Linked DNA regions of Homo sapiens. The protein of the gene in region 1 purifies or fractionates together with the protein of each later gene. This does not show direct contact. Each region holds a gene or a part of one and is shown in the gene's direction. Other genes may lie near its edges.

The links. The genes of interacting proteins can lie anywhere in the genome.
Region 2: the proteins of PRG3 (region 1) and FRAS1 purify together in Homo sapiens (co-immunoprecipitation; 3 studies listed by BioGRID and IntAct, with this or other methods). This does not show direct contact.
Region 3: the proteins of PRG3 (region 1) and COL6A2 purify together in Homo sapiens (co-immunoprecipitation; 2 studies listed by BioGRID and IntAct, with this or other methods). This does not show direct contact.
Region 4: the proteins of PRG3 (region 1) and GID4 purify together in Homo sapiens (affinity purification with mass spectrometry; 2 studies listed by BioGRID and IntAct, with this or other methods). This does not show direct contact.

The regions. Positions count from the first base shown.
Region 1 is NC_000011.10:57,378,193-57,382,656, reverse strand, and holds the start of PRG3 (proteoglycan 3 precursor), read left to right. Parts: upstream 1-1,506; 5' UTR 1,507-1,543; intron 1,544-1,875; 5' UTR 1,876-1,948; coding exon 1,949-2,009; intron 2,010-2,849; coding exon 2,850-3,163; intron 3,164-3,844; coding exon 3,845-3,976; intron 3,977-4,464. UniProt on the Homo sapiens protein: Possesses similar cytotoxic and cytostimulatory activities to PRG2/MBP. In vitro, stimulates neutrophil superoxide production and IL8 release, and histamine and leukotriene C4 release from basophils.
Region 2 is NC_000004.12:78,448,805-78,452,322, forward strand, and holds part of FRAS1 (extracellular matrix organizing protein FRAS1 isoform 1 precursor), read left to right. Parts: intron 1-1,346; coding exon 1,347-1,535; intron 1,536-2,967; coding exon 2,968-3,087; intron 3,088-3,370; coding exon 3,371-3,518. UniProt on the Homo sapiens protein: Involved in extracellular matrix organization. Required for the regulation of epidermal-basement membrane adhesion responsible for proper organogenesis during embryonic development. Involved in brain organization and function.
Region 3 is NC_000021.9:46,108,094-46,111,611, forward strand, and holds part of COL6A2 (collagen alpha-2(VI) chain isoform 2C2 precursor), read left to right. Parts: intron 1-821; exon of another isoform or gene 822-2,003; intron 2,004-2,377; exon of another isoform or gene 2,378-3,356; 5' UTR 3,357-3,383; coding exon 3,384-3,498; exon of another isoform or gene 3,499-3,518. UniProt on the Homo sapiens protein: Collagen VI acts as a cell-binding protein.
Region 4 is NC_000017.11:18,045,890-18,049,407, forward strand, and holds part of GID4 (glucose-induced degradation protein 4 homolog), read left to right. Parts: intron 1-3,518.

The DNA.
Region 1 (4,464 bases):
GAGATGGGAGGTGAGGAGGGGAGTGTTGGTTGGAGAGGATGATCTACAGAGTGCTGGAGAGACTCTGTATGGAGCTTTTCATGCTGCCTGTTTGCCAGCCCTGAAGCTATGCCTTGAGGTTGGGCAAGGTGGCATATCCTAGATCAGAGATCCTCAACTGGGGCCATTTTTCTCCCCAGAGGACATTTGGAAACATGTGGAGACATTTTTGATCATCTGCGGGGGTGGGGAGAGGGGCTACTGACATCTGGTGAGTAGAGACCAGAGGGACCATTAAACTTTCTACAACGCCCAGGACAGCCCCTCCACAATAAAGAGTTATTTGACCTCACATATTAATAGCACAAAGTTGAGGAACCTTGATCTAGATCCACAGCACAGAAGAAAGGATGTAGATTTTTCACACATTAAAGATGAGAAAGCTTGTGCCTGTAATCCCTGTGACTCAGGAGGCTGTGGCAGGAGGATTACTTGAGCCCAGGAATTCAGGGTTACAGTGAACTATCATCGCAGCACTGCACTCCAGCCTGGGTGACAGAGCAAGATTTTGTCTCTTAAAAAAAAAAAAGATGAGGACAGGCACAGTGGCTCATGCCTGTAATCCCAGCATTTTGGGAGGCCGAAGTGGGTGGATCACGAGGTCAGGAGTTCAAGACCAGCCTGGCCAGCATAGTGAAACCCCATCTCTACTAAAAATACAAAAAATTAGCCAGCTACTTGGGAGGCTGAGGCAGGAGAAGCGCTTGAACCCGGGAGGTGGAGCTTGCAGTGAGCCAAAATCTTGCCATTGCACTCCAGCCTGGGCGACAGAGCAAGACTCCGTCTCAAAAAGAAAAAAAAAAAAGATGAGAAAGAGGAAGGGAGAGAAAAAAGAGAGAGAGGAAAGAAAGAGAGAAGGTTTTGGAGTCAAAAAGACTTAGAAATTCCAGTTCTTCCACTTCCCATGGAACCTTGGCAAGTTGCCTTCTCTCTTTCTCTGAATCTCACATTTTGCCTCTGTGAAGTAGGGGTGGTACCTGGTGGAGATGATGCGGAGATGAGGGTGAGGGGTGTGTTGCACACTATGCCCCTAGGATGGGTGAGAGCTTGGGAGCACTGAACCTCCCTTTCCCCTCTTGTTTCTTCCCCCCATTGTCTCCCACCAGCTCCCTGGGATCTCCACTTCACTCTCTGGGATTCCACCAGCAGGAGGCTACTCCTGGAGTTAAGGCGTGTTGTTCAGACTGGGGCATTTTAGGGGGCATAAATAATAATTATGCCTGGACAATGGACATAACATCTAGGGCCTTCTGAAGCAAACCAGGGTGTGGGGTACCCAAACAAGGCAGTAGGCCCCAGGAGGCAGGTCCCTGCAGTCCCAGCAGAGAGCAGGGCACAGGGTTGAGAAGACTGAGCAAACTTCATTATCAGCTCCTTTGTCCCCCACTCTGTCCTGGAGCAATCATTCTGGCCTCTTCCCACTTCCCCAAAAACCCAGTATAAAGGCTGCTTCTGGCCCCTGAAGCCAGAGGCACTGAGAGTGGAGGTCTCAGACTCTTGGAAGGTGAGTTCTTTTCTGGCTGCCCAGGCAGGACCAGTGTAGGCCCTGGGAAGAAGCAGCACCTCATAGGGCAAACACGTAGGAGGCCTGTCCTTAGGAACATCATAGCTAAGCAGACCTGTCCCCGCAGGGGCAGGAGTCTGGGCTAAGGGTGATACTGGAGAGCAGCAACGGAGACTGGAAGACAAATGAAATTTGGTACCTGAGTTATCCCTCCCACCATTCCTTTTCTAGACTCTCCAGCTCAGGGTCTGTTCATGGCAAGAGGAGAAAGCAATCTTGTTTGCTCTTTAATCAAACAATTAAACAAATATTCCCTCTATACTATGTGCCAGGGGCTATACTAGACACACAAAGACAGCCCCAAGAAGGACGGTGGAGTAGTGTCCTCGCTAAAAGACAGTAGATATGCAATGCCTCTTGCTCCTGCCCTTTCTCCTGCTGGGAACAGTTTCTGCTCTTCATCTGGGTAAGTCTCTCCCTTCCCTCCTCATGCGTCTTTCCCTTTTTTCCTTTTTCCTACACTCCCCTCCCCCCGCTTTTATTTGCACTCATGAGGCCAGGACCACAGCCTTCCCTCTTTAGCTGATACAGCTCATCTCCGGTAAGATATCACTTGGACTCAGAACTGTAACCTGGAACTTTCTCTTTTTTGTTTGATTTTTTTTTGTTGTTGTTGTTTTTGTTTTTTTTTTTGTTTGTTTTTTGTTTTGTTTTGAGACGGAGTCTCGCTCTGTTGCCCAGGCTGGAGTGCAGTGGCGCGATCTCGGCTCACCACAAACTCCGCCTCCCGGGTTCAAGCAATTCTTCTGCCTCAGCCTCCTGAGTAGCTGGGACTACAGGCACATGCCACCACGCCTGGCTAATCTTTGTATTTTTAGTAGAGATGGGGTTTCACCATATTTGCCAGGCTGGTCTCAAACTCCTAACCTTGTGATTCGCCCGCCCCGGCCTCCCAAAGTGCTGGGATTACAGGCGTGAGCCACCGCACCCGGCAAACTGTAACCTGAACTTTCAGAAGGAAAAACCACCCACCTGTTAAGATGAAGGGCTGGTGACTGCCCCAGGCTTCTCACACGTGCTTTCTCCCACCTTCAAAACACACACTCGTGGTGTCGGCCAGAAGTCAGGTTCTTGTCCATTTGTGGGTGTGACCCGAGAGATCTCTCCTTACCTAACACCAAGGAAATCCTCCAGTCTTGTCTTCAGGTGGAATTCCTAGGAAAGCTCGAGCGACGTTGCTGGAGCTGTCCACGGTGCTGGAACTAGGAAGCTCTTGACCTGATGGCAGGTTACCTCTTCTTCCCAGAGAATGATGCCCCCCATCTGGAGAGCCTAGAGACACAGGCAGACCTAGGCCAGGATCTGGATAGTTCAAAGGAGCAGGAGAGAGACTTGGCTCTGACGGAGGAGGTGATTCAGGCAGAGGGAGAGGAGGTCAAGGCTTCTGCCTGTCAAGACAACTTTGAGGATGAGGAAGCCATGGAGTCGGACCCAGCTGCCTTAGACAAGGACTTCCAGTGCCCCAGGGAAGAAGACATTGTTGAAGTGCAGGGAAGTCCAAGGTGCAAGATCTGCCGCTACCTATTGGTGCGGACTCCTAAAACTTTTGCAGAAGCTCAGGTAAGTAGTAGGGAGGCTACTGCGGAGGACCTGGGGGAAAAGAGAGTACATTCAGTCTTCTGTTCCCTATTCATTTAGGCTAGTGGTTCTCAAAGCCTCGCATGCATCAGAATCACCTGGAGTTGTTGTTAAAACACAGCTTTCTGGGCCTCACCTGCACGACTTCTGATTTAGGAGGGCTGAGGTGAAGCCTGAGAATTTGCATTTACAACAAATCCCCAGGTGATGATGATATTGTTGGTCTGGGGAGAACCACCGATTTAAACAAAAGGCTTTGGTGTTAGAAACGCCTGTGTTAAATTCTGGTTCTGCCTTTTATTAGCTGTGTTACCTGGGCAAGTTGCTTTGCCTTTCAAAGCTTTAGCACCTTCATTTGTAAAACGAAGATATATAGCACCAACTTCTTAGAGTTGTGGTGAGCATTAAATGAGATAATACATGAAAAGTGTTTGGAATAGTCACTGGGCTGTAATAAACTCTCAATAAGCGGTGGTTATAATTATTATGAGTATTATCATTTCCTGTAGGATTGTCCTGACAGCTAATTAAGAAGCAAAAGATAGGATTAAGGGAGGCAAGTAGGTTTATTTTTAACCTGAAAAGGGATGCCGGGCTCTTGCCTGGAGACTCAGAAACTTGAAATAAATGAGAGGGAATTCTCTACTTTGTTTCCGTCTGCAGAATGTCTGCAGCAGATGCTACGGAGGCAACCTTGTCTCTATCCATGACTTCAACTTCAACTATCGCATTCAGTGCTGCACTAGCACAGTCAACCAAGCCCAGGTCTGGATTGGAGGCAACCTCAGGGGCTGGGTAAGTCAGGGGCCAAATCTTGGGTGCAGTAAGTTCTTTCTGAATGTGTTAAAGTAGCATCTGATGGTGCCAAGCCTCAGGCCAGCAGCTAAGGTTTCCTTAATGTGGCAGGCAATGATGTGCTGGAGATGGCTTGTACTGGCTCAGGAGAACTGATGGTGCACATCTCTTACCAACTCCATGCTCAGTGACTACATGCTTGCAGCTTGACATCAGCCATGGTGGGAGTATTTACACAAAGGAAATAGGCAATTGCTACACATCAGGGCTCCTTTCTACTCCCCATCCTCCCACCCACCCCAAGAGCTGGTATAAACATTTACCAGCATACCACTGGAGTCATGAGACAGAGTCCAGGCCCAGCTTAGTCACTTAGAAAGCTAGTTAAATAGGTTTCTTGGAGCCTCTGTTTTTTTTCAATCCCTGAAATGGGGACCTTCTTCTCTCAGGGTGGTTCTGGAATTGTGGGTGAATAAGTGGCATTATAT
Region 2 (3,518 bases), on another chromosome or scaffold:
TTAACATTCACAATTTTGCTCATGTTTAAGCAACATTGGAGGACCTGTGACAAGTGTGAGTCTTGAACAGTTTGCAGTAGGAAGTTACTTAATTAAGAAGTGGACCTTTTGCCCAGGGTGTCTGCATCTTACTAGAGTTCTGTTGTTTGTTTGTTCTTAGTTTCATGTGTATTTTGCAGTGAAAAATGTATGGTATAATAGTATTGGAAAACTTGGTAGTTCTCAAAGGTCTTAAATATCAAGTCTGAGATTTGACTTTATCCTACTTATAAGCTAATAAACTATCCTGTTACTGTTTCATGGATGCTGGTAGAAGATACAAGATTCCTCCATCAGAAATACGGCACTCTTGTTACTTATAGCACAGCAGGCAGCATGGGCATCAGCAGGTTTGCATCGGCTCCCTCTGCCATCCCAGTCCCATAGGGGTGATGTAGAGGGCCCAGACAGACACTTTCGTGTGCAGTAGGATGCATCACAGAGGGGAATACTGAGCTTGGGGAATTCTCCATGTTACAGCAGCAGAATGCAAGTCTTATTTTTGTCTGAGAGGAAGACATTACCTCATCCCTCAAGGTTGCTCTCTGAGAAACGGCCTGGGTAAAGCATGGTCAGGGTCTTGTGTTCTTGGTATTACCCACTAAGAACATGTCACTCCAAACACCAGGATGTATTATGCATGAATAACTAGGCTCTACTTTACCGGGATTTACTATTTTTAACATGATAAAGCGGCTGGGTAATAAAGCAAGTGACAAGACCCTGAGAAGAGGAGTTTGCCATTAGCCAGGGCCTTATCTTCATCCCCAACACCTGCGCAGTGTCCAGGGCCCAGAGGCTCAGATCTCCTTGCTCCTAACATCCTCTGTCCTGAAGGATGCTGATTTTCACTACTTTGTCTGACATGGCAACAAGATATGTTTGAGTTTATGTAAAGCTATATTTTTCTGATTTGGTGATTCTCAAGACAGTAAGTAAACTAAATCCAAGCAGGTTTCATCATAGATCTAGGAGTTATTTTTGTCACAGAACTGGGAGTTATTCCACAGATCTAGGTATTAACTGGTAGGTCACTGAGTCGGAGGAGCATAGGAGAGAATGAAAATGGATCAGAAGGAAAAAAGTGCTTAGGTGTTGACTCAAGGGAAAATTAGTAAATTGAAATGTCGGTACTCTTTCACTAGGGAAATTATAATTTATTCAGCTGGAAACTGAGAAGGGCAAGTGCCTGGTACCTAGATCCAATGAATATGTGATAATTTAGCCTCCAGTCTCCTAAAATCATTTGACATCCCGTTCAAAGGAAATGTTGGGGAATAACCTACTCTCTTCCGTTCTCTTCCAAGGGTCTGTAGCACGCATCACAGAACAGCACTTGAAAGTGACAGATATTGACTCAGATGACCATCAGGTTATGTACATCATGAAGGAAGATCCTGGTGCAGGGCGCCTGCAGATGATGAAGCATGGCAACCTGGAGCAAATTTCTATTAAAGGCCCCATCCGAAGTTTCACCCAGGCAGACATTAGCCAAGGTCAGCCAGTTCTCTTCTGCCTACCAGGCTTCCGTGGACTGCACCTACACTAGTAAAATGAGAATTAAATATCTGGTAGTCTATGGCAATAAACTGTGCACTCTTTGTTTTGAGGAGCTTCATTTGTTCTCTTCCTTGTTTTCTTATTTTTTTTTTCTTTTTGTTTTTAAAAAAGCCCTATCTTTCTTGGTTGAAATGTGTTCATGCTTTGACTTAGCATTGGTGGCATTTGCAGCTATTTTGGAGAGAAAAAGTTATTTTGACTTGCTGTGATGCTAAAAAGTATATATGAGAGAGAGAGAAGGAAAAAAGAAGTGAGTTGGGATGGATTAAGGTGAAAATTATGCCTTCCTTAGGTGAGCAATTTATATCTCTTTTCAGCTCCCCAAAGAGCACAAGTTAATGAACTAAGCAAAATGGAAGGGCATAAATCGGAGCTGCCTAGGGGAAATTACATGGCACATCCCTCCATCAGGAAATGCTGATGTAATGTAAAGGCATAAATGTTAAATGCTACGTAGTTACTGTACAGTGCTTTCAGGGATACAAAAGGGAAAAAAAGTTATATATTGGGGAAAACGTAATCCACAGTCTTGTGATTATGTGCAATTCTGTTTAGAAGTGGAAATATACCCCTGCGGATAAAAAACAAGTGTCCCGCCCACACACTAACACCTAAAATTGACAACAGCTGAATTCTCATTGGAACTGGCTGTGCTTTAGTGAAGGGGAGTGGAAGAGGCAAAAGGAAAGTAATTCCTTAATTATTTCATATGTCGGTGTCTACTTTTAAAAGATAAGACCAGCCCCCTCTTCCCAGAGATTTGGTTATATTTACACAACCAAATTGAAAGATGCTTTTAAGTGATGCTGTAGGTTAACAAAAATGTAATACATTTTTGTTGTACTTCTCCTTTTAGATCCTTTTGAGTTCTATGTGGAGTTTATTTGTTGGTTGGCTATAGCCCATGTTGCTCCGTGAACTGGGCAATGAAAAGTGAAGAGTTCTGGGAGAATGTGAGGTGCAGCTCTGTGTCTTCTTGCCCTTGTGATTCCAATATATAATAGGGTCACTCCAGGTGATGTGGGTGTGGTCAGTGCACATTTACACATGGGCAGTTTTGTGGATCTCGTTTTCATGAGGTGTCCTTAGAGGCTGAGCTGATCTTCCAAAAAGGCTCAGCCTTAACCATGAGAAATGTCACTTGGGGTGATTTTGTTATGAGAAGGTCTTTGGTTATGAGAAAGTAGATGGTGGGAGAGGAAAAGGAGGAAATGAAAACTTTAGATTAAAATGTCAAAAGCAGTGTCAAAGCGAGGAAGGTGTGAACTGATTCATTGGTGTGAACACCAATTGAATTCACACCTCTTGCTTCAGAAATAAGGGCAGAAAGCACTAATAGCAAATCTTGATTTTTTTTCCTTTTTATAGGCCACGTAGAATATAGTCATGGAACAGGAGAACCTGGAGGGAGCTTTGCTTTTAAATTTGATGTGGTTGATGGAGAAGGCAACAGATTGATTGACAAGTCATTTTCCATCAGCATTCTAGGTAAAGAGACATTTGATTTTCTAATATAAAACTATTTTAGCAGTTCTGAGGTTATATAGTTTACACTTTGTTCACCTCGAGGCTCGAGTCCTTCCCTTTACCTAGCTGGTGTGGAAACTGAAAATCATACCCCCTTTATTGCACGAAGCCCTGGCTCCTTGGTGTGCTCTCTAACACACAGGCCTAGAGATGACTCTGACCTTACTTCTTGGCACCAGGCCTAGAATTAAAGAAAGGAGGCTGAGAAGATCCCATTTCAAATCACTATTTCTGATATTTTCAGAAGACAAATCCCCACCAGTCATCACCACCAATAAAGGACTGGTCTTGGATGAAAACTCAGTGAAGAAAATCACCACCCTGCAGCTGTCTGCCACTGACCAGGACAGTGGGCCTACAGAATTGATCTACAGAATCACCAGACAGCCCCA
Region 3 (3,518 bases), on another chromosome or scaffold:
ATATATATATATATTTTTTTTTCTCTTTTTTAAAAAAACTTTGTTCAGATGATTTTCTGGGTAGACAATCCTATCTTTAATAAGGACAGTTTTGTCTCTTCTTTTCCAACAGTTATACTTTTATTTTTACTGTCTTATTGCATTGGCTTCCAACACAACACTGAATGGTAGCGTAAGATCTGCACTGTTTGCCCCCACCCCATTTTTTTTGTACTGTAGTAAGCATTCTTCTAATGCAGGATTTTTTAACCCAGGGTTAGATCTACGAATGGAATCCCTGAATTCCTGGACATGATTTCTGTATATGAGCATCTATGCATTTGTGTAAGGTGAAATTGTGTAGACTCTTAAAAGGGTCCATGACCACAAAGATAAGAACCACTATTTTAGCTTTTTGTGTAAAATATGATGTGAGCTCTTGATTTGAAATGTATATCCTTTATAGAGTTAATTCTACTCCTAAATTTCTTACTAGGTTTTACCTTGTCTGGCTGTTGTTGTTTCTTAGTTAGAAATTGATGTTTCAGGGATCTATTGAAGCAATTGCATATTTTTTCCCATTTTATGTTAATGTGACTTACATTAATGTATTCCCTAGTGTTTGTGGCAACACTGTACTTTAACTTCATATTATAGTTCTGGTATAGTGGTCCTTAATATGCTATTGGATTTTAGTTTTTAATATTGGCTAGAATTTTTGTGATAATGTTATGGGATTTTTAGGGTGTCACTTTTCTGGCCTGAAACCTCTATGGCCAGTGGCGCCTTTGCCCAAGTTCTTGTCCTGTGTCCAGGAAGAATGAGGTACACAGACAAGTGGAGGGTGTGCAAGACAGAGAAGCTTTATTGAGTGTTAGGGGAGCTCACAGGAGACCCGCAGGGGGCAGCCCCTCTCTGTAGGCGGGTTGTCTTGTCGGCGGGTTGTCTTGTCAAATGTTCAGCTCTCAGCAGAGAGAAGGCCCTGGAGTGGGTGGCTCCTCTCTGCAGGCAGGTCATCCCATTGTCTCTGCAGCTCTTAGCAGAGAGGAGGCCCTCGAGAGCGTGTCTCCTCTCTGCAAACAGGGCATCTCAACTAGTGTTCAGCTCTCAGCAGAGAGAAAGCCCTGGAGAGGGTAGCTCCTCTCTGCAGCTGGTCGTCCTGACATCCCTTCAGGTCCTGAAGCTCTCAGCAGAGAGAGCACCTCCTCTCTGCAGCTGGTCGTGCCATGCTCTGCCCTGCTCTGACTGAGCCTGGGGCTTTTAAAGGCCTCAGAGAGGGGAAGTGCATGCTGATTGGTCCATGTGCAGCCATGTGCAGGCCCAGAAGAAAGCACCTTGAGTTCCCCTCTGGTCCGTAGGACGGGCAACCCGGCCCCCAGGCTTCAGGCCTGCCCCAGCCTGAAGGTGGGGCTTCACTGGGGACCCATCCTCTTCTGCCCAGGAGCCTATCTGCCTCCTGCAGCCATCCATGGTGCCCAGGCTGCTGGTACCAAGGGGCACCGGTGCCCAGCCACCCTCAGCACCCCCCCAAGCCTCCCCTCCTGCACTTCTCAGTGCCCACAGTTTGGAGGGGGCCAAGTCAGCAGGGGGCTGGCATGTCAGCACTGCCACAAGCATGCACCCACCCGGCCAGGCTGTGACAGTGCCCAGGCTCAGCCCCAACTCTGCTCTGAGATTGGAGTGGGTGGTGGGAGCGGGAAGAAGCTGGGCAGCGGGAACAGGCACCTCCAGGCCTACAAGGGAAAGAGGGGCCTTCCCTGGCTCCCCAAGAGTGCAGCGATGCCTGGGTCAGCAGCCCCAGTTGGGGCAGCTGAAACTGCACCAGGAGTGGGGGCTGGCTCCTGCCTCCTCCATGGAGCAGAAGGCCCAGATCCACAGCCACGACTTGGGCAGTTGTACCTGGGGAACTCTCACCTCGCCAAACTGCAAGGGGCAGGGATCCCACTTATCCCCGGCTCCTGCTGGCTCCGTGGAGCATGGTACCTGGCCATGTCCTCTCGCAGCCTGGGGCAGGGTCTCCAGACCTGGGCCAGCATCCCAGACAGGGGCAACACCGCCGTGAGCTCCCCTTCACCCAGCACACCACCCGGCCCGGCCCCATGGCAGCGGCCCCCAGGGAGGCAGTCTGCGGGGTTGGGGGCCTGTCTGCCTCTTCCATGGGCCCTCCCTGAGCAGCCAGTGTGATGGCAGCGGCCACACCAGATGGGCTGCCGCTGCCATCAGTAATATTTATAGTGATATTTATCTGTAGAGTTACTTTTAGGGACTTTTTTTTTTATCAAGCTTTGGTCACAGGTTATGCAACATTTAAAAATGAATTGGGAAAAAGTTTATCTTTTTATGTTCTAAAACAAGTTAAATAGCATGAAGTGCTTGTCCTTGAAGCTGTGAAACTCACCCACAAACTGCCTGAGCTGGCACCTTTGGGAACGGACTTCATTCCTCCCTGGGCCCCAGGCTGAGCAGGTCTGGCCTGGGTCACCTCATCCACTCCAGACGCCGCAAAATCACAGCAACCCTTCAGGGCCCTCTCCTGGCAGCGCCTCCCCTAGTCCCGGTGCTTGGACACTCCTCCCATCTGCACCGAGGAGAGGGCGGCACTCCAATCCCTGCATTACCCCTGGAACTGCACGCTCTGAACCAGGCCCGGTGCCCTTTCTGCCCAGCTGCCCGGCTGCTGCCAGCCCCACTCTGCGGAGCCAGCAGCACAGTGAGGCCCGTCCTGATGGCCTCCTGGAGCTGGAGCTTAGGCCAAGCCACAGGGCATCAGGGAGGATGGACGTTCAAGGGCTGGATCTGTTTGCCCCAGGGTCCTGGCACCCAACAGAAAGGAAAGCCAGGCTAATGACGGCTGTGTCCCTACACTTGACAGAGTCCTCCCTCCCTCCTTATCAAAGTCCTGTTTAAAGGGAATGGAGCCAGGCTGGAGAGAGAGTGCCTAGCTCTGCAGGGGAGCCGGTCTGGGGAAGCTGGGATCTCTCTCCCGCCCTCCCCTCTGCACTGTTTCCAGGGCAGCCCCAGGCAGTGGGGGGCGCCAGACAGTGGTGCTCCATTCCCTTCCATGCCGACGCGCCCAGCTACCCACTCCACCCAGCCCTGGAGGACATGGAAGGGCCTCAACCATCCAAATCCCACCCAAAACTGAGCCCAGAGGCACCCACTAAACATCTGTGACCCCACCCAGGGTGGGGCAAGAGGGCGCAAGCCCCCCAGTCCAGATGCTGGTGACGGTGTGTGCTGGGCGCAGACCCCGCTTCCTTGAAGACTGAGGGCAGTGCCCCCAATCCCGCTGACCTGCTGTGCGTGCGCCTGCCATGGGGGAGGGTGCCAGGGGAGAGGCACTGGGGGTGTCTGAGCGACCCCCACCCCTGTTGCAGGACTTCAGGGCCACAGGTGCTGCCAAGATGCTCCAGGGCACCTGCTCCGTGCTCCTGCTCTGGGGAATCCTGGGGGCCATCCAGGCCCAGCAGCAGGAGGTCATCTCGCCGGACACTACCGAGAGAAACAACAACTGCCCAGGTGCCAGGGGTCGGGGGCCG
Region 4 (3,518 bases), on another chromosome or scaffold:
TCAAAAAAAAAAAAAAAGAAAGAAAAAAAAGGGGAAGTGACCATCTAGTTTCCAGCAGAAGTACCTGCTGTGCAGAGTATTTTATTTTCTTTGAACCAAGTTTTTAAACCTCAGAACTCCTGGGACTTTAGAAAGCAAGGAGGAGCATCCTTTCTTTTCCATTAGCAAGGAAACAGGAAGTGGAAGGAGGTAGCTGGACTGGCCCTCCGAATGCTGGGAATGCCCAGGCTGGACCTAGCTGCAGGGGGCCTCTGGCCTTTGTCAGCTCTCATGGTCTGATGATCCAGCAGTATTTGGACAGAGTGCTGTGCTGGATGGGGCAGTGGAAAGGAGCTGGGGTGGCATTCTTCTTCTGCCCCTTCCTGCATCTGTGACCTTTAACTTCTTTCAGTGTCCTCATCTGCGAAGTTGAGAATTAAAAATTCCTGCTCCAGGCTGGGTGCTGTGGCTCACACCTGTAATCCCAACATTTTGGGAGGTCAAAGCAGGAGGATCACTTGGGGCCAGGAATTCAAGACCAGCCTGGACAGCATAGCAAGACCTTGTCGCTACAAATAATTTTTAATAAATTAGCCAGGCATGGTGTTGTGTGCCTGTAGTCCTAGCTACTCAGAAGACTGAGGCTGGAGTATCGCTTGAGGCTAGGATTTGAAGGCAGCAATGTGCTGTGATCATGCCTGTGAATAGCCACTGCACTCCAGCCTGGGCAACCTAGGAAGATCCTCTCTCTTTAAAAAAAAAAAAAATTGGGGTCGGGCGTGGTGGCTCACACCTGTAATCCCAGCACTTTGGGAGGCTGAGGTGGATGGATCACCTGAGGTCAGGAGTTCAAGACCAGCCTGGTCAACATGGTGAAACCCCATCTTTACTAAAAATATAAAAATTAGCTGGGCATGTTGGCAGGCACCTGTAATTCCAGCTACTCAGGAGGCTGAGGCAGGAGGATCGCTTGAACCCGGGAGGCGGAGGTTGCAGTGAGCCAAGATTGCACCATTGCGCTCCAGCCTGAGCAACAAGAGCGAAACTTTGTCTCAAAAAAAAAAAAAAAAAAAAAAATCCCTGCTCTGTCTAAGACAATCAGTGGACTTGTTCTGGGGGTAAGGAAAGAATGTTAGAGAAAATGACAGACTCAAATATGGTACTAATATGTGATTCTCTTGTAAAGTCCTGATGAGCCTCAGTCTTAAGACAAGTTTCTGGCTCCTGGTTCCTATCTGCTTTTCTATTAGAAGCTTAACTGATTAAGGATCTCCTATGAAGTTTGTTGTTGAGACCAAAGGTATTTCTTCTTTAACTCGAGAATTGTATCAAATCAAGTAGGAGTAGAAGTGATAGCAAAATACAGGATTCCAGCCTTTGGGTTTGTGGTAGGAGAAAAGATACTAAAACAGAATATGCTCAACTCTCAGGTAGCCAAATACATTAGTTAACTGGGTGCAGAACATAAACACTGAATTTCATAAGGAAACCAGCAAGTGTGTAAGGCATTGGAATGTTAACGCTGACTCCAAAACCAGTCATTTGGGTGATAACAAGCTGCACAGAAATGGTAAGTAGCATTCGAAATCTTGAAGAAGTATACAGAAATGCTAATGGCATTGAGCTCTCCATCGGGAACAAGTAGCCCTTCCTTTAGGAAGCCCCCGTGAGTCGAGAGCAGCAGTCAGGCTCCTTTGAGGAGGGGGCACTGACAATGGCCCTTCAATGGGGGCTAACCCAAGGGGAGCCCTAGGCTCTTAACAGAACCTCTGCAGATGGCGTGGCCTCGATGAGCACATACCCTCCCCAGAGTTGCCTGTTCCTGGTCCAGCAATAAATAGACCACGTTATGCTGCTGCAGGGGTGTTGCGTTAAAGCAAGTCCTGCTCAGGCCTTAGATGTAGAAGAATTCTTTTTAAATAATGTTTTTTAGTAGCTTTATTGAGATAATTCACATACCATACATTTCACCCATTTGAAGTATACAGTTCATTGGTTTTTAGTGTATTCACAAAGTTGTGCAACTATGTGATAACTTTTTTTTTTTTTTGAGATGGAGTCTCGCTCAGTCACCCAGGCTGGAGTGCAGTGGTGCAATCTCGGCTCACTGCAAGCTCCGCCTCCTGGGTTCACGCCATTCTCCTGCCTCAGCCTCCCGAGTAGCTGGGACTACAGGTGCCCGCCACCACACCCGGCTAATTTTTTTGTATTTTTAGTAGAGATGGGGTTTCACCGTGTTAGCCAGGATGGTCTCGATCTCCTGACCTCATGATCCGCCTGTCTCGGCCTCCCATAGCGCTGGGATTACATGTGTGAGCCACCACGCCTGGCCGATAACTTTTTTTTTTTGAGACAGAGTCTCAGTCACCCAGGCTGGAGTGCAGTGGTGTGATCTCACCTTACCACAACCTCTGCCTCCCAAGTTCAAGCGATTCTCCTGCCTCAGCCTCCCGAGTAGCTGGGATTACAGGCGTGCGCCACCCTGCCCAACTAACTTTTATTTTTAGTAGAGACAGGGTTTCGCCATGTTGGCCAGACTGGTCTCGAACTCCTGACCTCAAATGTCCACCCTCCTTGGCCTCCCAAAGTGTTGGGATTACAGGCGTGAGCCAACGCACCCAGCCTGATAACTTTTAAAATTATAAGTCTAGTATATGGTTGCCGTAGATAATAGTAAAATGCAGAAAACTACAATGAATCTTTGAATAAATTTTGTACCTGTATTTGGGTTTTTTTTCTTTTCCATTTATGTTTGTTAAAATATCAATTTTTTATTTTTATTTTTTGTTTTTGAGGAAGAGTCTTGCTCTGTCACCCGGGCTGGAGTGCAGTTGTGTGATCTCAGCTCACTGCAACTTCCACCTCCCAGGTTCAAGCAATTCCCATGCCTCAGCCTCCCGAGTAGCTGGAATTACAGGCATGTGCCACCACACCTGGCTAATTTTTATATTTTTAGTAGAAATGGGGTTTTACCATGTTGGCCAGGCTGGTCTTGAACTCCTGACCTCAGATGAACCACCCACCTTGGCCTCCCAAAGTGCTGGGACTACAAGCATGAGCCACCGTGCCTGGCAAAAATATCAAATTTTTAATTTATTTTAATTAAACTATAATTTGGGTTTTAGTCATAGTAGTTGCCTTCCTCACGTATACAGTATGGAAAAGTATCTACTAAAATGGAGATAGGCCAGGCACAGTGGCTCATGCCTGTAATCCCAGCACTTTGGGAGGCTGAGGCAGCTGGATCGCCTGAGGTCAGGAGTTTGAGACCAGCTTGGACAACATGGTGAAACCCCATCTCTACTAAAAATACAAAAATTAGCTGGACATGGTGGCGGGCACCTGTAATCCCAGCTACTCAGGAGGCTGAGGCAAGAGAATCGCTTGAACCCAGGAGGCAGAGTTTGTGGTGAGTTCAGATCATGCCACTGGACTCCAACCTCGGCAACAGAGTGAGACTTCGTGTCAAAAAAAAAAAAAAAAGGAGATAAGTGTCAAAAAAAAAAAAAAGGAGCTAAATGGCCTCTTAGCTACCTCAC